Linked DNA regions of Homo sapiens: region 1 is linked to region 2. The links come from fine-mapping of genetic effects on gene expression. A gene starts in region 2. The other region holds a variant in brackets. All regions are shown on one strand. Distances are between the middles of the regions. Region 1 has its middle 59 kb from the start of LINC01717. Region 2 holds the start of LINC01735 (long intergenic non-protein coding RNA 1735).

What was found. PIP is the estimated chance that this variant, and not a neighbour inherited with it, causes the effect.
Region 1: its variant is fine-mapped to the expression of LINC01735 in cerebral cortex (GTEx, PIP above 0.99). The same link has a PIP of 0.9 or more in prefrontal cortex.

What each region holds. Positions count from the first base shown.
Region 1 is chr1:208,782,505-208,793,441 of GRCh38, reverse strand. No RefSeq gene overlaps it. Among named protein-coding and RNA genes, the nearest start is that of LINC01717, 59 kb to the right of the region's middle. The variant C/T (reference allele first, on the strand shown) is at 5,784.
Region 2 is chr1:208,608,882-208,619,818 of GRCh38, reverse strand. It overlaps LINC01735 (long intergenic non-protein coding RNA 1735), which reads left to right and starts at 5,697. Exons shown (of 2, transcript XR_001738430.2): 1 at 5,697-7,729. RefSeq lists enhancers at 6,876-7,045, 6,946-7,115.

The DNA.
Region 1 (10,937 bases), 170 kb before region 2:
GGATATCATAGCTCAGAACCCATGCATGCTCTTACTGCTGGCCCCAGCCCGCCCCATGTAGCCATCTAATTTGGTGTCATCAAAAGACAGTGAAACACATTTGATGCTGTCTAGTCCAGCTCTCCATATTGTAGATACCCACAACATCTGACTGACAGATCTGTCAAACAGATGTTTGTGAAGACCTAGCCACCAATGCAGCAAAGCAGATCAGGTAACCTGTAGCATGTCTTTCTCTGTAATCTGAACATTGATGCTTTAGTCGGGTTCTAGATTATGCATCATCCATGTCACCGCTTTAACTTCATGCAGGTAGCTCATTTCTTGTATGTAAATGGATTAAATTTAGTTATCAATGGCAAAACAAAACAAAACAAAAAAACCTTATAATTGGGACAGACCATTCAGTCACCTCTGTGATTTGATTTTTTGTCTAATGCTGCTAAGGCCTTTTTACCTAAGTATTGCTATCCTGGTTCTACATTGCTGCAAACTTAACTTTTACTAGCTGCCAATCCCCACTGACTGCCTTCCTTTTATACCTCTTAACCCATCCTTAAAACCAAACAAAACTAGCCCTGGGAATGATATATTGTGATAAACACATTTGTTTGTATTGATGTACCAGATCATCTGATGGTAGTTGAACATTTCTCCACTGAGAGCTGATCCATGTTTATGTATAAAAAGATCTAATATTGTCCATCCTTCCCAAATTAATTTATGAAATGAATACAGTTCTGATCAAAAGTGTACTTTTTGTCTAGGTAAAATAATTCTAATGTTATTCTAGAAGAGCCAATAGAAATGAAGCTGAGTAATTTTTTTTATTTTTATTTATTTATTTATTTTTTTAGACGGAGTCTCACACTTTCGCCCAGGCTAGAGTGCAGTGGCACGATCTCTGCTCACTGCAAGCTCTGCCTCCCGGGTTCACACCCATTCTCCTGCTTCAGCCTCCTGAGTAGCTGGGACTACAGGTGCCCGCCACCACGCCTGGCTAATTTTTTGTATTTTTAGTAGAGACGGGGTTTCACTGTGTTAGCCAGGATGGTCTGGATCTCCCGACCTCGTGATCTGCCCACCTCGGCCTCCCAGAAGCTAAGTTATTTTTGAAGACGAGTAAAGGAGGTTTACACTATTTGATATCCAAATATATTATAAAATTTAATACGTAAGCAGTATGATAATGACATGGGAATAGAAAGATCAATGGAAGATTATTTTAGACTTCAATATCTTTGGATTTTCATTTGCAAGGGAATCTAACTCTTTGGAAATTTGAACATTGGTGAAAGTTTACAATCAAATTTGGGCCATCTCAATGTTGTTGGTATTTTATTATTGAAGCCTTTTATTTGTCTTACTATTGGAGCATCTTTTATGTCATATTTAATCTCATGGCAGAATCTCTGATACTGTATATTGGACAATGTAAGTAGACATAATTTAGGATGAGAAATAGAATAAGGAGTTTTCAACTCCAGTAGGAGAGCCTTGAAATTGATTTGATTAATGTGCTGTTTTGATCCATCTTAGAGTCTTCTGGAAGCAAACTCCCAACTCCCCTCAGAAAGGATACCCAAAAGAGCAGCAACCAGTGTTGGGGAAAGGAGCCTTAAGAAGGCAAACATAGAACTCTCTTGATAGATTGCAGTTCTCCCCTGGGGAGATAGCCACACCCATTACTCTTAATGATTAAACCTAATAGAGAAATAAGCCTGAGCAATGTGAGAGAGGAATGTCATTTTTCCATTCCTGGGATTCTTTATGGACAGATTGTCTGTAACCACTCTTGGCCTCTCATTCATTCAGCCAAGGGAGGAGGGAGTAACTTGGCTGATTAGCACATTTGGAAAGAATAAACCAAGCTTGCTAGACCCAGCACACTCCTTTTTTTTTCTTGAGTACTAAGTATGGAAGCCAGAGATTCCCTCTGAGTCTCCAGTCTGTAAGTCTTACCTGAGAAGGCAGCCCTGGAGAGAGAAACTGCCTGGGACTGAGCAGCTACATTAATTTAGGGGTTCAGTTCACAGAGTCTACTTGGCTCTCCCACTAAACTACATTTTCTAACTCCTCTATTAACAATAACAAACGTGATATTTTGACCCATCTGCCCTACTGATTTTTATTTCTCAATTTATTCAGAACCCAAGTAGGCCAGAGGATACTATATCCATATTGAGCCTTTTCAGACACTCCAACAATAATGTTTGGTAAACATTTTTTTTTTTGATCTTTCAAATTAGATACTCACTGGCTAGTCTACAGAATATTAGGAGTTTTTTTTTTATGCTAACAGATGCTGTTTGAAAAAGAACTACATGGTTAAATCGTAATTCTAGGTAAAGCAAGATAAAATAAGTATCTGTACAGCAGGACTTCTTGAAACCTTAAAATGGAACTATGCTCTGTGAATCTTAATAAGGAACTAGATTATCCAGCATTTCTCAAACATATGTATATCTGCCAGAACTTATTTTATTTTTCAGAATCCTGAAGCAGTAGTGTACCATGGAACACATTTAGGGAAATGCTGAATAATTCCATAAACATATTAGATCAGTTGGCAGTTTGCAAAGAAAAAACAAAATAGCTACCTATGCAGTATATAAAACTAAATTATAAATGAATTTTTAAAAGTAAAAAATGAAAATAGAAAATACTGGTGAATATAAAAATCTCAGAAGGGGGAATTTTTTTCAAACATTCTAGTAAAAAAGAACCATAACAGAATAACTGATTCAACTTACCTAACATTAACATTTTATATAAATAACAACAACAACAACAACAAAATGCATAATTAGAGGGGGAAAAAAAGCAAGTACCAAGCTAGGAACAAGATATATTTTTAAATACATGTGACAATGGTTTCATATATGACAACTCTCACAAATGAACCAAAATAAAGAGGTGATTCTTCCTTTTCTGGAACCCAGGTAAAATAAAAATAATAATAAAAACAAAAGGTGAATATCCCAGGAGCAAAATGAGAGAAATACATGATTTGACAATGCACAAAAAGAAATATAACTTATAACTTATAAGAGATAATATCTGATTTCACTGGTAGTCAAAATTGTAATAAAAATAATGATATAATTTTTTTACTTTACTTTTAGAGATTATACTTATTTATTGTTTTTACTTTAGTAAAAAAGATCACTATCCTATATTGTTAGTTATGGGAATATAAACTGGTAGATTATAACTTCTGGAGAGAAACTTGACAATATGTTTAAATGTCTTAAAAATGTACATAATCTCTGACTCTGCAATTTCACCTCTAGAAATTTATTCAAAGGAGATGATCAAGGATGCTTGAAAAGATTTATATTCAAGCATGACCACTTCATCATTGCTTATAATACCAAAAATGGGAATATTTGTAATGTTCTATAATAAATATGACAAATTCATGAGCCAGAATACTACGCAGTCATTAACAATTATGTTGTACAAGAATATTTAATGATCTGGGGAGGTCATAATGATATAGTAAGTAAAACAGCTGTTGTAAAACCAGAAATACAGTATCATCCCATTTTATTAGAAAATATGCATAGTGTGGCCGGGCCTGGTGGCTCATGCCTGTAATCTTAGCACTTTGGGGCCAAGGCAGACAGATCTCTTGAGCTCAGGAGATTGAGGCCAGCCTCGGCAACATGGTGAAACCCTGTCTCTACAAAAAAATACAAAAAATTAGCCAGGTGTGGTGGCACATGCCTGTAGTCCCAGCTACCCAGGAGGCTGAGGTGGGAGGATCACCTGAGCCCAGGAGGTTGAGGCTGCAGTGAGCCATGATGGTGCCACTGTATTCCAGCCTGGGCAACACGGTGCATACCCTCTCTCTCAAAAAAAAAAAAAAAGGAAATTTACATAGTAAAAAAGCCTATACATTAAAATATAAATAGTGATTATATCTGCGTAGGTGGAATTATGTACTACTTTTTTCTTCTTTGTGTTTTACAGTATTTTTCAGTTTTTTGCAATTAAAGTTTATTGCTTTTTGCAATCAAGAAAAATAAAAGATAAATTGCAAAAGGGATATATCAGTAAAGATTGCATTCTACAAAGAACAAATCTGTGTGCATACTGTATTAAAATCTCATAATTAGTGAAACATTAGCCTACTAAGGTTTTAAATGGAATGGGTCATGGCCTTGCTGTATTGTGTAGAGCCCAAAACAATATAGACATTTAAATCAATGTAATTTTTAGTGCTTAACAATCACCTTTAGATTTGCATGATCTGAATGAGTGGCCCTTTGGGTTATATACGGACTGTGACAGTTACCCAGCTTCAGGTTACAAGCATGCAAGACCATAAATCAAACCATTTCCTGATGTAAACAGGTCTCACAAATTTAGACTTCTCAAATACTCCATGAAGTCCAAATTTAACAGCCGTTTCAGCTAGAACAACCATCAGCAACCCCCCGAAATCTGCATCTAAACTATCCACATTATCTGAACATCTCTACAACCATCAGGTCTGTTTACTCGGAATCTAGGGATAAAGGGTTAGTGGAAAAGAAAAGAAAATTGTCCCACTTGGCTATCTCACATAATATAACAAAGAGGGCAAGACCCTCGATTCTGCAGATAGCCTGAAAAAGATTGTCTTAGATCCGAAGTGGAAACACTCTGTTTATCTGGTTCAGATTCCTATTCTCTTATTATGCTCAGTGAGGCCATGTCATTTAAAGCTATTTCTTTCTACCACTGTCTCTTTTAAAGCAACATCTGCAGAATTAAATTCCATGCACTGACAGGGATGCTTTCAAAAGCTCAGAATCAATTCTTCAATCATTCCACTTTCTTAGCTGTGATTAAAAACATGTGTCCCCTAATTAAGCTAATGAGAAACTGTTAATTGGCACAAAGCCCCCTCCTGTGCACACTTGTTAATGTCACCCTCACTTTGACAGGAGAAAGGATCAAAATCAAGGGCAGAGAGTTCTTAAGTGACTTCAATATTGGACTTAAGGAGAGGAGCTTTATTTGGGATGCTAAGGCTGTCAGTTGTACGACTTGCATGGAGGAATAAGGAATGTCATTTTGCTGCTAATTTTATAAGGAAGCAGAAGGAAGGGATGCAAATAGGACAACAGTTGATATGTTGATTTCTTTTTTCTTCCTCACAGAAATGATGGCATTCAATTCTCTTATTTGCTTTCTATGCAAGAATGAATCTACATGATAAGCCACAACAGAGTAGGAAAGCATCCCTCTCTGAAGGAACACTAGGAAGGAGCCCTCCCTGTAGACCCATCTAGTTTCCTCTTTGTCTCTAATGAGCAATATCATTATTTCATCTTCCCCTGCACCCAAGGCTCCTTGTGGATAGGAGAGGTATGCTTTGCCAGAGGAAGCACATGCTTTGATAAGATTATTTTTTATATTTTTCTAAAATTTCCATTTTGGAAAAACTAGAATTCTTTACTTGCCTAGTTTGTCCCTAGCTTTTCTTATGTAACTTTGCATACCAGCAATGATTCATTCCTAAAGTCTCAGAATCTTCTGAAGATGAAAAAATGTCCTGCAACGGGGAGGCTGGACCAGAGCTTATGGAGGACTGACAAGAGAGCTGTTATCAAGACAGCAGGCCACAAATGAGGACTCAGAGACCATGAACTTGTCTTGGTTCAGAGCAGCTCATTCCAGGAAATGGATCTCTCTGCCTTAAGTAGCCCTGGGTCGATTCTTGGGGAAAGAGACAAGCCTGGAGGCCAGGGTAACTCAGGTTATTAACCAAAGCTCTGAAAACCACAGGTGAG[C/T]GAGATCTGTTGCTAATATCTGAAAGTCCATTGCTTTATGACCCATCGGTGAGGTATAGGGGTGAGGAGGTTCTGCTCATCTGGAGCCCTCTTTTTCAGTCACCTAACTGAACCAAGTGTTTATCAGACCTGTCGATCATCTGAGAGAGGAAAGAACACTTTGCAGTTTGAAGGGTGTGAGCCACTGCTGGAACCTCTGAGAATGCCTGGCAGCAAGCTGTCACCCTGATGGGTGTGTGGAGCTGGCAGCTCCTCAGGCAGCTGTTTCTATGAGTGATTTGATGAGAAAGGAGGAGGCCAGTAAGAAGAAAGCTGTTTTAGAACCAGGGGTTGGAGTTAAGGGACATGGGCAATCTAGTAGTGGTGTGTAGTGTTTTTCCTCCACCCAGTCCCATGGACTATGCTCGAGTTCAGAGAGATGATTTAAAAGGGGCTCTGAGAATCATGGGAAGGACAAGAAGCACTCAGCACCTTCAGCTAAGAAAGAATGGCAGTAAATGGGAGGCAGACTCCTGACTGCTGCAGACCTTAACCTCCCTCCGGGGAGACAGGCTCTGGCACAGATGCTGGTGTTCCACCATGTGTGCCCGCACCTCACAGAGAGGCAGCCTTCCTAGTTGATTTCTGCGCTGAGGACCTTGACAACGGTCACTGGTGCAGGAAAGGTGGAGTGCTGAGGCGACTGTGTGGTGGCTAGAGCTGTTAGGAAGCCTGTGTCTGCCCGATAAACCTGGAGAGGACCTTAGGAAAGGAGATGCCACATCGGTGCCTACAAGCTGGGGGTCCTGGGGAGATTTGAGTCACTTCCTCCTGTTAGGTGTGGCAGTGAGTGGGGAGGGTTATAGGAAGTCTTGGTGTGGGGCAAGAAAGAAGGAGGGGGTAGGAATTAGAGAGACCACTTTGGGATTGTAGACTAAAAGTCTGAAAGGCCTTTAAGATCCCATCAAATTGTGCTACATGCACCTGAGGTTGTATTAGTTCAACCTCCCCATATTTTTCCTTTCTTATAATCTCACCTGGGGAACTATAAGCACAAAATTCAATCAGAAGAACCCTTCATTAGCTTCTATCTGATGCGTAAAAGGGAAAGATAAGAATATACCAGTACGGGCTCAGTATCAACTAAGAGTTCACAGGGAGGGGAAAAGAAGACAAATTGAGTTTTCAGGAGAGAACAGGCTGTACTTGTCACACTCTCTTCCCACCTCCTGCCCCCAGGAATCCGCTAGTTAAGAAAGAGTTCTATCCTATGGTCAGAAGGCTGGGATGAATCAGCCAGGTGCGGTGGCTCATGCCTGTAATCCCGGCACTTTGGGAAGCCAATAAGGTGGATCACCTGAGGTCAGGAGTTAGAGACCAGCCCAGCCAACATGGCAAAACCCTGTCTCTACTAAAAATACAAAAAAAAAAAAAAAAGCTGGGTGTGGTGGCAGGTGCCTGTAATCCCAGCTACTCAGGAGGCTAAGGCAGGAGTTTCGCTTGAACCTGAGGGGTAGAAGTTGCGGTGAGCTGAGATCACACCACTGCACTTCAGCCTGGGCGACCGAGCAAGACTGTCTCAAAAAAAAAAAAAAGAAGGTAGGGATGAATGTTTTATTACCTAGTTTTGTAAATCAGTGAATGTGTTTATTTGAGCTAAAAACCAAACCATGACAGAGTGGGACTAGGACCAGCTAAGTCATGTTTTGATGTTTTGAGACTGATCTGAAGTAATCCCCCCCTTTTTTTTCACCCCATTGCTTCCTGCAGGGACAGGGACAAGATGAGATGATGTATATGAGAGTATTTTGTAAACTCTGAAGTACTCAGTGAATAGGCTGAAATCTGCTGAGAGTAGCAGAATAGTCCTTTTTTAAAGTAAGAAGGATAAGAAATGATTTGCATAGTTTACAAATTCTGTTAGCTCCAGTCTCCAAATGCATTCATTCTAACTCATAACTCATATCCACTACAATCAGGGCTGGTGCCCATGGCTTTGGTGTCCGTGAGTATGTCTGGCCTGGCAGGGAGGCAGAGCTAAGAATAAGAAACAAGTTGGTTATGCTCCAAATATAATAAATTTGTCTACCTTTAAAAAATAAAAAAGGATATTGAGATAGATTCTGGCTGAGTTAGATTTACAGACACTTACTCTTTTGCCTGTTTTTAAAGTAATGAAAATTCTATCTCTCCCATTGAATCTGTCCTGAACTTAACCAAGAGTTGTCTATTCCTGTCTGAAGACTCTAAGTTGCTTTAACAGGTCCTGAACCCCAACTCTCCAAAACAGAGGGATGCAGAGGCCTCTAAAACCCAGGGTCTAGGTTTCTGCCTTCCCTCCCTTCGAAACCTGCTTGCTGTTTGCTATGGGATTTCTTTTACCCAGTTGTCACCTCCAGACCATTTACAGCTGGAGCTTCTCTTCGGTTGCCATACCTAACCCTGGACACTGTTTTTGAGATAACACTTAGTTTTAAACCCTGCCCTGAAGGGTCAGTTCCATATCACTCCTGTGTCTACTGTGGACTTCTGAAAGTCAGGCTGGATCAGAGATTGAGGTCTTGTGTTGACATGGAAAGAGAGTGGACAATTCCACACTTTGATTCCAATTCTAAGAATAGCAGAGAGGAGCCAGTGTATTGTCCTAATCCAGGGCAGGTTCAGGGTGTGGACGTCCCTACTGCACCCTCCTTGCTAGAACTATGACTATCATTGGGCTTAAATGGAAGAATGAGGATGGGATTCATTTTAACCAGGCCACCTGAGCATTAAGGGAAGGAAGCCAGGGCAGGGTAATTAATACAAAGCCCTTGACTGCTGAGCTCTTCCACTTCAGCCACTGGGAATTTGTGCCATGAAATCTCCTTCTGAGGAACTTCTGTGAAGTTGCTACAGATATCCTGTAGCAACTAATTCCACCCTGATTGCACTTGGCGTGGCCTACTCTAAGGACCAATATGATGACAAGAACAGAGCAGTAAAGATAAGAGCTGAGAAGGCAGAGTGGCAGTGCTGTTTCTTTATGTTTGGATGCCTTTTGTTCCAGAATGAGGCCACCTGGTTAAGGGGGAGGAGAGGGGGGTTCTTCCTAACCACTGAGAGCTGCCCTCTCACTAAGTAAGCATCAATGACTGTGCTGTGGTTGATAGTTTTATATATATATATATATATATATATATATATATATTCTCCTTTCAAACTTAGAGACCAGTTTTTCAATGTCTAGGCCTGCGGTTGACTGGCATTCCTGACTTTGCTCTCCAAATCTATCCTGCTCTGACCATTACACACCCACATCCCTGGAGGAGCCGTGTCCTGTGGCCCACTGGGAAGTTGCGCCCCGTACAGTAGATGCACCTGACAGCAATAATTTAAGCATAGCCTATATAGCAGATACACCTGAATTCGTGTTCCAAGCTAGGGAATTTGGGCGTGGCCAACCTGGAGATTCATTCCTTGTCAATGAGGAACATCTGAGCCCCATCCCTACGTACACACCCCAGCCCATCCTGTGGAACATGGGCTGTATAGAGGATTGAAGCCCTGAGTTTTGGGTTGGATGAAGATTGCCAGGTGGAGGTTGTTAAGGGCAGGATATTAAGTGAAATGCTATATAAACTGCATGCTCTTTGCAAATGGTTGGGGTTTTCCTGCCTAGCCCACCACCACTGGGCTTTGTTGACTGTAGGTAAGGCGGTAAGGCAGACATTTTGTCCAGCTGCTGCCACTGATCTGTCTCTGTATGTAAGGCAAATCTCTTGTCCAACTCACCACCACTGGAATCTCTCCTGTCTATGTAATCCATTAATAAAACCTCATGTCTTGCTTGCTGTTCCTGGTTCTTTTCTTTGGCCTCTTGACCCTAACACCTTCCCTATTGAGGTTAATAGGGGTTTGGCACAACAGCTCCAATGCTGACACAGCCTTTATCCCCAATTTTAAAGAATTTTGGCCTCAGAATGAGCATAATATTCATTCAACAAATATTTATTGAACACCTATTATGTACCAGGCAGTGTTTTAGACACTGAGGATGCAGGCATGAAAGAAACAAAACTCCTGCCCTGATGGAACATACAGGTTGGCAGATATAGAATGAGTAAAATATATAGTGTATGGGACCATGATAAGTGCTATAGAGAAACATAAAGTAGGGAATGTGGATAGTGAAGGCAGTGGGGGGTCATTGCAAGTTTAAACAGGATAATCAAGAAAACAAGGAGGCCGGGTGTGGTGGCGTGGAGTGGAGGACCTCTCCCACTACCTTAGGCTGTCTTATGCAGAACAAGTGGGGACAAAGGTGGGAGCAAGGAGACCAGGTAGAAGTTATTGTAGTAATATAGGTGACAGATGAGGGCAGTTTGGACCATATACAAGGTGATAACAGAGGAGATGCCAAAAGTGGATTGAATGTATCTTGAAAGTAGAACCAACAGGATTTGCAGGTGGATTCAATGTGGGATGTCAGAGAGAAAAAAATCTTTCCTTGCTCTCCCAAGGGGTCTTAAGGCCTCCGGGTGGCCAGTCGGTTCAGAACATGTCCTGGGCTTGTAGATGAGGCTCCCTTTCACCCTTCAGCCCTCACTGTACACACAGAGTAAAAGAGGACTCTTGTGACCCCAAGTAAAGCTCAGGGATTAGATGATAAATCACTAGATATAAAGAAGTTAAATGAGGAGTCATAAAGGATTATCTTCCTCCCAAGTCTTGAAAAAGTATGCCTTCCTTCACATGGCGTCAGCTGGATTTTCAGAAGGCATCCTCGTGCCCACCTTATGTATGACTCCATATAACAGGAGCCTTTAGTGTAACCATTTATTGCTCTTCCCTCCCCTACCCATTCCTTTCTTTCGGATATCCTGGGAAATGTAAGTTTTTTGCTTTTTGTTTTTGTTTTCAACGTAGGAGCATTTATGGATCTTCCTTGCACAGGGTAAAAAAGAGTTCGTTTTATTAAAGTACTCATAAAAGAAGCTAAGTTAATAAAAGAGAGAGTTGGGGGAGACAAGGGAGCCACAGGCTTTCAGAGTAGCATGTTTTAAGTGTTTTTGCAGCTCAGTTCCCCCCCGCTCTCTTCCCCAACCAGCTATTACTGCAGTATTTTTGCTCACATCAGCGACTTTCCACCTCATCTTTCTTTCTCACAGGTAGTTTTGAAACCTAATTTCAACCTGT
Region 2 (10,937 bases):
TTTAAATCTATTCAGCCGGTCTATGTCTTTTGATGGGAGAGTTTAGTCTATTTACATTCAATGTTATTACTGGTAAGTAAGGACATACTCCTGCCATTTTGTTATTTGATTTCTGGTTGTTTTTTGGTCTTCTCTTTCTTCTTTCTTTCCTTTCTATCTTCCTCTAGCAGAGGTGATTTTCTCTGATCATATAAAGTAGTTCCCGGCTTTTTATTTTTTGTGAGTCCATTGTATGTTTTTTGGTCTGAAGTTACCATGAGGCTTGAAAATGCTATCTTATAAATAACCTATTATTTTACCGAATAACAACTTAACATTATTTGCATAAACAAACAAACAAGCAAAAAGAAAACTAATAAAACTCTATGCTTTAACTTTGTCTCCTCACTTTTTAACTTTTGGTTGTTTCCATTTATATCTTATTGTACTGATGATGTCTTGAAAAGTTATTTTAGTTATTATAATTTATTGGTTATTTTTGAGTCTTTTTACTTAGGATGAAAGTAGTTTACACACCACGGTTACAGTGTTATGATATTCTTTGTTTTTCCATTTACTTACTATTACCAGTGAGTTTTGTACCTTCAGGTGATTATTTATTGCTCATTAATGTCTTTTTCTTTCTGATGGAACTACTCCCTTTAGCACGTCTGGTAGGAAAGGTCTGGTATTCATGGAATCCCTCAGGTCTTGTTTGTCTGAGAAAATACTTATTTCTCCTTCATGTTTGAAGGCTATTTCTGCCTGATATACTATTCTAGGGTGAAATATTTTTGTTTTTGTTTTTGTTTTTGTTTTCCTTCAGCACTTTAAATATGTCATGCCACTCTCTCCTGGTTTGTAAAGTTTCCCCTGAAGTTTGCTGCCAGACATATTGGACCTCCATTTTATGTTATTTGTTTCTTTTCTCTGGCTGCTCTTAGGATCCTTTATTTATCCTTGACTTTTGGGAGTTTGATTATTAAATGCCTTGAGGTAGACTTTTTTGGGTTAAATCTGCTTGGTGTTCTATAACCTTCTTGTACTAGCATATTGATATCTTTCTCTAGGTTTGGGAAGTTCTCTGGTCTTGTTCCTTTGAAAAAACATTCTACCCATATCTCTTTCTCAACCACTTCTTTAAGACCAAAAAGTCTTAGATTTGCCCTTGAGATTATTTTCTAGATCCTGTAGGCAAGCTGCATTGTTTTTTATTTTTTTAATTTTGTCTCCTCTTACTCTGTATTTTCAAATAGGCTGTTTTCACGCTCTCTAATTCTTTCTTCTGCTTGATAAATTCTGCTATTAAAGGAAAATCTGATGCATTCTTCAGTATGCCAACTGAATTTTTCAGTTCCAGAATTTCTGCTTGATTCTTTAATTATTTCAATCTCTTTGTTACATTTATGTGATAGAATTCTGAACTCCTTCTCTGTGTGATCTTGAGTTTCTTTGAGTTACTTCAATGCAGCTATTTTGAATTCTCTATTTGAAAGGTCACATATCTCTGTTTCTCCAGTATTGGTCCCTGGTGCCTTATTTAGTTCATTTGGTAAGGTCATGTTTTCCTGGACGGTGTTGACGCTAGTAGATGTTCTTTGGTGTCTGGGCATTGAAGAGTTAGGTGTTTATTGTAGTCTTCACTGTCTGGGCTTATTTGTAGCCATCCTTATTGGGAAGGCTTTCCAGATATTTGAAAAGACTTGGGTGTTGTGATCTAAGCTGTATCTGCTTTAGGAGACACCCCAGGCCCAATAATGCTGTGATTCTTGCAGACTCATAGAGGTACTGACTTGATGGTCTTGGACAAGATCTGGGAGAATTCTCTGGATTACCGGGCAGAGACTCTTGTTCTCTTTCCTTACTTTCTCCCAAACAAATGAAATCGTTCTCTCTGTTCTGAGCCACATAAAGCTGGGGGTGGAGTGACACAAGCACCACCAGCAATACAACTGGGCTGGGTCAGACCTGAATCCAACACAGCTCTGGGGCTCGCCCAAGGCCTGCTGTAACCATTCCCTGGCTACTGCCTATGTTCTCTAAAGGCCCTGGGGCTCTGCGATCATCAGGTGGTAAAGCCAACCAGGCCTGTATTCTTCTTTTCAGGATAGTGAGGTCCCCCAGGCCCCAGGTGGGTCCAGAGGTGCTATCCAAGAGTCAGGGACTAGAGTCAAAGACCTTAGAGGTCTATCTGGTGTTACTGTATTACAGCTGTGCTGGCACTCAAACCATAAGACACAGTCCTTCCCACTCTTCCCTCCCCTTTCTAAGGGCAAAGGAGCCTCTCCCTGTAGCCACCACCACCCCAGGCCACAAGGAGTACTGCTGGACTACCACCCATGTTTCCTTAAGGTCCAGGGGCACTTCAGTCAGCTCATGGTGAATGCTGCCTGGCCTGGAACTCACCCTCTAGGACAGTGGGCTCCCTGCTGGCTTCAGTCAGGTCCAGAAATGCTGTCCAAGAGTCAAGTCTTAGAATCAGGAATCCCAAGAGCCTGTTTGATGCTTTGCCCCTCTGTGGCTGTGCTGGTATCTAAGGTGCAGGACAAAGTCCCCTTTACTTCTGCCTCTGCTTTTCTCAAGCAGGAGGAGTTTTGCCCCATAGTCATTACAGCTGGGAATGGGCTGAGTTTCACTTGAAGCCAGCAAGTCTCAGAGGCTGACCCAAGGCCCTTGATGTAGTACCTGGGTATTGCTGCTCGTTATTTAGGGCCCTAGGGCTCTTCAGTTAGCAGGTGATGCATGCTCCCAGGACTTGGTCCTTTCTTTCAAGGGAGTGGGTTCCCTTCTGGCCCAGGGTGTGTTAAGAAATGTTGTCTAGGAGCTAGGGCCTGGAATGGGGGCCTCACAACTTTGACTGGTGTCCAATCCTGTTGTGGATGAGCTGGTATCCAAGATGCAAGACAAAGTCCTATCCACTTTTCCCTCTCCTCTCCTCAAGTGGAAGAAGGGGGTCTCTTTTGGAGCCACGAACTGTGGAGCCTGGGGTTAGGGGAAGGGTGATGCCAGCACTCCCTTGGCTGCCCCAGCTGGTGCCTTAGTAGGTTGCATCCACGCCACCTCCCCACCACGCCCACCCCAGTCCACTGCTTCTGGGCCTAATTCAACACTAGGACTAGTCTAAGAATTGCAGTCCTTATGGTTTAGACTGCCTTTCAAGTTTACTTGGAGTCACAGAGCACTGTAGCCCTCTGTGGTGAGATTTGCAGGCACAAGTTCTGACTGCTGGGATCCATGACTGGCTTCTGTTTAGGGCTGGTTTAAATGCACCCTCTGTGGGCAGACATCAGCTGAGTTTGACCCAGTTCTCCTTTCTGCTCTAACAGGACAACACTGAGTTCAATGCCTCAGAATTGCTGGGTTCTCCCTGCCCCAGCACCCAAAGAGGCTCTCTGCACCAGGCCACTGCTGCCAGGGGTGGGAGAGGGGTGGCGTCAGCAACTCAGGACTGTTTCTTTCTACCTCTTCAGTGCCTTTTTCAGCACTTTCTACCTTTCTACCTTTTTCAGCACTAAGAAGTTAAAACCAGGTACTATGAGTGCTCGCCTGTTTATTGGTTCTTATGAAGGTGTTTTTTTTCTGTGTAGATAGCTGTTAACTTGGTGTCCTTGTCTGGGGGAATGATCAGTGAAGCCTTCTCTAACACCATCTTGCTTCACCTCCTATTCTGCCCAGGTTTTAACGAGCCTTCTTGCTGCGGGTTGATGAGGGCCAGAATATCATGCAGATTTTAATTCTAAGAGATTAAGATGTTAAACCCTTCTATTCAGCTAGAGCACAATAAAGAGTAGTTTTTGCAATAGTAATTAGTCTTCCAAGTAAGGCAGGTACTATGGGTCTGGTGGTTGGCACCTGCTTTCCAGCTCCTATAAGAACTGTTTTGTTTGTCTTAGAGTAATAAACACAAACTGCTTTTATAACTTGAAAAAAAACTCAACAAAATCCACTGCAGCTTGAGAACAACCTGAAATTCATTGTCTTTCTATGTTATTTCCTCATTAGAGCTTTGACCTACTCATTTCTAACCCATGAGCTTCAGGTTTTTTAATCTACAAAATAGAGCCATTGCGGTAAATACCAGTCCAACAAGACCTGAGGTTAACACATCTCAGAAGAAGTAAACACCTGCCATGAGCTGCTTCTGTGCACCATTGGTATTGATGAGGGAAGGACTTAATGACCCAGAGTGAGTACAACATATCTGCATGTGGGGCATGATATTCCCCAGAGAGTTCAATAGGAAGCAACAAGCAAGCCAGAGAGAAACTGTAGTATTATACAGTCAGTTGGTAGGAATGTCAAAAGAGGCAATGAAAAAGATTTTCAGGAATGGAGACAAACCTCTGTAGGACCACAGAGAAGCTGAATGCCTTCCCTCTCTAGGGTGTACACATCTTCTTTCATTTATAGCTCACTTGTCAAGATTTTAGATGAAGCAAATTATTTTTCCTCTTTGCTAGTAAAAATCCCATAAATGCTAGCCAAGGTAATTGTTTTAGCAGTCACTCCTGCAACCCAGCTATGCTTAGGGAAATCTACCAATGATACCATTTATTGAGTACCACTGTATGATAAGCCCGCTCCATGTGTTATCTTATATGATCATCCTAATAACCCTCTGGTATAGGGGTTAGCATCTCTATTTTATGTATCAGGTATTTAGCCCCTGTGTGGTTAAGTCACATACGCAAGACCATATGCTTAGTAAACAGGACAACTGGCATTGGAAACCAGGATTGTCCTAATTAAAAGAGAATCAGGGGCCAGGGGCAGTGGCTCATGTCTGTAATCCCATCTATTTGGGAGGCTGAGGCGGGAGGATCACTTGAGGCCAGGAGTTCGAGATCAGCCTGGGCAACAAAGTAAGCATCCATCTCTACTCTCTCCTTTTCCCTCTCCTCTCCTCAAGTGGAGAATAAAGTGGAAATAAATAAATAAAAACAGAATTTAAAAAATTAGCTCAGCCTAGTGGGCATGTACCTTTAGTCCCAGATACTTGAGAGGCTGAGTTGAGAGGATCACTTGAGCCGAAGAGTTCAAGGCTAGGGTTGTGCCACTACATTCCAACCTGGGAGAAAGAATGAGGCCCTGTCTCTTAAGAGAGAGAAGAAATCAATAGTTGTGGATTTGAACCTAGTTATGGAAGAATTGTGAAGTAATTTCAGACAAAAAGTATTTCCTATTGAGAACAAATCAGTTAAGTGAAAGATAGAAGTAAGAAAAATGAACCAACATGTATTGAGTGTTCCCTCTTAACCTGCCTTTCATTCCCACAACATATCAGGCTCGTCTAGCACTCAACATTAGCACTTTCTCTGCTACATTACCTTGCCTCTCAGCAAGAAATGTGTTCTCACTTGTATTATTTTTATTCCTACCCTTTCATCTCCCTCTCCCTCCCTCCATGTCCAGTGAACTTCCCAGAAAGTTGGGCATAACAGTTATAGCAGATAATAATTCTATGTAACATTTATTGATCACTTTCCAGGTACCAGTTTCTGTGTTGAGCTCTTTATGTGGATCTTACAATTTAATCATCAAAATACCCATAAAGATGATGATATTTTATCCCCATCTTCTGGATGAGAATATTGCACCACATTTTTTCTTCTCTCCTCCTTACTTCCCAATTGCATTAAAATATTTTTCTTTGGATTCAGGGATCATGGCCTGGGGAGAAACACAGCTTTTTGTAGAAGTAAAAATGTGAACACAGATACAATTCTTCATTTTCCCCAAACACACCATGCAATGCAAAGATGCTACTTTTTGTCTGCAATGATTCTACCTATTGTTAGTTCACTGCATCCTCAGAGTCAGTGCACAGGCAGGAGAGACTGAGATTATTTAGATTCTCATAGTACAGCATATAATGAGGAAGACAGGCTAGGATGCCATGGGTGCCACATTAGTGCCTTCTTTAAGGTTCTGATATACAAGCAGCCCTGCCCCAGTTGGTTTGTATTTAAAAGAAGATCATTTATTAAGGTGCTGATATACAAACTCTGTCCCACCCGAGTTGGCTTGTGTTTAAAAGAGGATCCTGACAAGTCTACCTAAAGAAGATGAAAGAGATATTGGGGGCAGGGGACAATGGACTAGCTAATGTGCAGAAATAAACTTTACAGCTCTAGGCCAGGGCCACCATAAAACTCTTCCACACTGTGCAGCACACATTATGACGGAAACAACATGCCTTGGCTGGTGGCTTTGCTCCGTGTTCCTCAAGAGAGCTCTGGGTTGCAAACTTGCCTGCTCCCTGGCTGTCTCATCTTTTACATGTGAGGACCACAATTCCTGACCTTTGCAGTGGCTGTAAACTTTGAGACAGGAAGGCAGGATCTGCAGCTTGCCAGGGGCCTCGGAGGACTCTGGTGGCCCATGCAGCTCTATGGGCTTGGAACTTGAGCTCATTGAGGATGTCACCTACAGATAAACAAGTGACACGTCTTGAACACATTGCAAACAACTTTTAAAGGTCATCTCATCCATGCCTCTGTCTCTTCTTTGGAAGACTTCAAAATTATTTCAGAGTGAAAATGTCTCCTGTTTTCAAAAATTGCCAAATATAAATTATATGAATGAGTTTGTTTAAACAACTTAGAGGACCAAAATAAAAAATTTTCTTAAGTCTAATCAGTCGTGCTTCAGGAACATAGGATGTTTCCTCTTGTTCTGCCTTTTGGAATGGTGAAGGGTATTTCACTGACATCTTGAATCATTTAGAGGGACTTAGGATTCAATTTAATACAATAAATATTTACTGAGCTTCTACGTATCTGATACTGAAATGGGGCCGAGAGGGTCACAAAGTTGATGATCTGGGCTTCTTTCTCATCTCAAGAAGCATAATTCCCACATCACTCATGATGCAGAGTGTGGTAAATGCCACATAGTAAGGCCACAAGGAGAGGGTTTGGAGCCATTGATGTTACCTAGAATCAAATAATTCTATGGTGGAGACAAAGATACTCAGGAGAGCACCTGCATCTCATCTGGACCAAAAGGAATGGACACAACTGTCTGGATGAGCTGTGGCACAGGCATTCTGCCAAGAAGAGGAAGCTGGCAGAAGAGGCCTTGGTAAGTCTGAATTCTTGCCTCAGTTCTGGTACTGAGTTCTCCCTGCACATTACATTCCTACTGTGAACCATTCACTCCTCCCTTCCTCCATTAATTTATCTAATTGATATCTATTAAACAAATGCCTACCATGTTCTTGACCCTGAGCCACATGTGAGAGATTCACCAGGCAACAAGACAGATGGGAGGAGCCCCACTGCTATGGTCAAATGTTTGTGTTTTCCCAAAATTCGTATGTTGAAACCTAACTCCCAAAATGATGGTGTTAGAAAGTGGGACCACTGGGAGATGATTAGGTCATGAGGGATTAACATCATTATAGAAGAGACCCCAAAATGTTAGCTGGTCCTTTCACCACATGAAGACACAGCTAGAAGACACCACCTATTAACCAAAAAGTGGGCGTCAGCAGACACCAAATCTGTTGGCACTTTGTTCATGGACTCCCTAGGCTCCAGTACTGTCAGAAATAAATGTCTGTTGTTTATAAGCCACCTAGTTTATGGTATTTTGTTATAGCAAGCCAAATGGACTAAGACACCCCACCCTTGTGAAGGCGACAGAGGACTAGAAATAATGAACAAATCTGCACTGAGCATAACCCATGATGCATAGTACTGCAGAACAGTGCTGTACAGTGCTCTTCAGGGCCTCACAGGAGGTGCAGGTAATAAATGTAACAGTCTGAGATCATGTTAAAATGTTGCTCCATCCCTGCTTCATCCCTTCACTATCTGTCATCGTGTACTATTCAGGGTTTTTTCATAGTAATTATATATATTTAACATTTTATTACATTGTTTATTGCCTGTCTCTGTCATGTGAATAGAAATTCCATAAGGGCAGAATTTTTGTCTCATTCAGCACTCTATTCTCATTGCCTAAAATCATGTCTGGCACATGACAGGAACTCAAATTCCTATCTATCTATCTATCTATCTATCTATCTATCTATCTATCTATCTATCATCTATCTATCTATCTATCTATCTATCTATCTATCTATTTAGCTAGGTAGCTATTTAGCTAGGTAGCTATCTACCTACCTACCTACCTATCAATATAGCTATCCATCCATCCACCTACCTACCTACCTTCCTACCTATTTATAATCTATTTAATTCTTTATTTACTTATGATAGCCTAGAGAAGCTAATGAATTCTTAGAGGCAATTAATTATCTTAAGAGTTCAGAGAAGAAAGAAGTAAACATATGAAAAGATGCTTAATTAACATCATTAGTCATTACAAAACTGCAAATTAAAAGCACAATGAGAAACCACTATACGCCTATTAGAATGGCTAAAATTAAAAAGACTAGCCATACCAAATACTGCAACAAGTGGAACTCTCAAACATTGCTAGTGGAAGTGTAAAATGATACAACCACTTTAATGATACAACCACTTTGGAAAATGTAGTTGTATCATTTTGGTACTTACTTAAAAAGTTAATCATATATTTACCATAAGATCCAGCTATTTAACTTCTAGGCATTTACCCAAGAGAAATGAAAGCATATGTCCACATGCTATGGTGTAAATGTATTCCCCTAAATTCATGTGTTAGAGATGGAGGTGAGAGGATCACTTGAGGCCAGGAGTTCAAGACCAGCCCGGGCAGCATGGCAGGACCTTACTTCTACAAAACAATTTTAAAAGTAGCTGGGCATGATGACACATGCTTGTGGTCCCAGCTACTCAGGAGGATAAGGTGGAAGGATCACTTGAGCACCAGAGTTGGAGGCTGCAGTGAGCTATGAATGTGCCACTGCACCCAAGCCTGGGTGACAGAGTAAGACACTGTCTCTAAAAAGAAGAAACACAGAAACTTAATTTACAATGCAACAGTGTTGGGAGGGGGAGTCTTTTGGGAGGTGTTTAGCTCATGAGTGGTCTGCCTCATGAATAGGTTAATGCCCTTACAAAAGGACTTGACAGAGGAAAGTTAGCCTCTTTTTACTCTTCCTCCTTCTTCCACATGAGGACACAGCGTTCCTCCCTTCCTGAAGACACAGCATTCAAGGTTCCAGCTTGGAAACAGACAGTAGCCTTCACCAGATGCTGGTGTCTTTATCTTGGACTTCTCAGCCTTGAGAACTGTGAGAAATGAATTTCTGTTGTTTATAAATTACCCATTCTCAGGTGTTCTGTAACAGCAGCATAGACTAAGACACGACACTAAGATTTATACATGGATGTTCATAGCAGCCTTGTTTGTAATAATAAAAAACTAGGAACAACCCAAATGTCCATCAGCGGTTATAAACAAACTGTAGCGCATCCATGCAATGGAACACTGCTCAGCAATTAAAAGGAATGCATGACTGTGTGAATGAAGCCAGAACAACAAAAACTGTGCAAACTGTATGACTTCATTTACATAAAATTCTAGGACATGGAAACCAATCAAGAGTGACAGAAAGATCAGTGGTTGCCTAGGGGCTAGTGTCAGGGCTGCAGAGAGGGACAGAGAGGTGCCACAAAAGGAAACTTTTGGAGACAGTGAACATGTTCATCATCTCAATCATGGTGATGGTTTCACAGTTATATATTTATACAAAAAAATTGAATTGTAAATTTTGAATACATGCAGTTTATGTGTGTTATTTATACATCAATTAAAAATGAAAAAAATAAAAGCTACGCTTTTGGCAATTTAAAAATTTCAACGTTGCTCTGTGAATATGCAAGTCCGGCAAGACATTTACGTGTCTTATAGATTAGACTGTAATGATAAGGCATCTACTTCCACCTGGAAGAAGTTTTAAGAAGAATGCTAGTTAATGTGTATTGAGAATTTGTTATGTGTCTACAGGCAGGCTATGTATATACACTATGTGAGTTAGGCCCCAAAACAATTGTGAGGTGGTTCCTATTATTATCTCCATTTTCAGTTGATAAAATTGAGGCTCAGGAAATTTAATAACTTGCCAAAGACCTCAGGACTGCTAACTGGTATAATAAAAATTTGAAAACAGGCTCATTTGATAGTTGAATTGAGCCTCTTAATTTCTATGCTATTGGTAATAGGTACTTAGTTTTTAGAGAAATTTAGAATGGGTTGGAGGGGTTTTGGAAGGAGACAGTTGAGTCTAGTGCTAAGTATTTACTAGGTATTAGTAAAATACTTAGTTCAAATATTAATTTTGCAAATCTAAAGTATAAAGCAATGTGTTGTGATTCTATACTTAGAAATTCTTAAAACTGTCCTCTTATATATTTCAAATTTGACCTCTTTCTTCCATCTCTACCTCTATACAAAAAAATAAATGCCGTCATAACCAGTGCCACCATAACTTCTTGCCTGGATAATTGCTCAGCCTCCGGCTGGTGTTCCTTGCTTATATGTTCCACATAGCAGCCAGGATGATCATCTGAAACCTGAAATAATATCTTATCACTTTCTTTCTGAAAGCCATCTAGTTTTTTTAGGACATTTAAAATAAAATCCAAACTTCTAATCCTAATTTTACTATGTACTTCTTTTGAAAACCCCAAATGACAGTCTCGCTCTGTTGCCCAGGTTGGAATGCAGTGGCTATTCACAGATGCAGTTGAAAAGCACTGCAGCCTTGAACTTCTGGCCTCAAGGGATCCTCCACCTCAGCCTCCCATGAACTGGGACTGTAGGCACACAATACCATGGTGGGCTTCCTACATACTCTTCTCTGATCTTGTCTTCTGCCATGCTCTCCCAGACTCTCTACTCTTAGTGTTACTAACCTTCTTTCTGTTTCCCAAACACATAAAATGAGTTCTGCTATGGTTTGAATGTGTCCTCTCCAAAATCTTGTGTTGCCAATGTAATAATATTAAGAAATGTAACCTTTAAGAGGTGATTAGGCAATGAGGGCTCCTTCCTCATGAATGGGA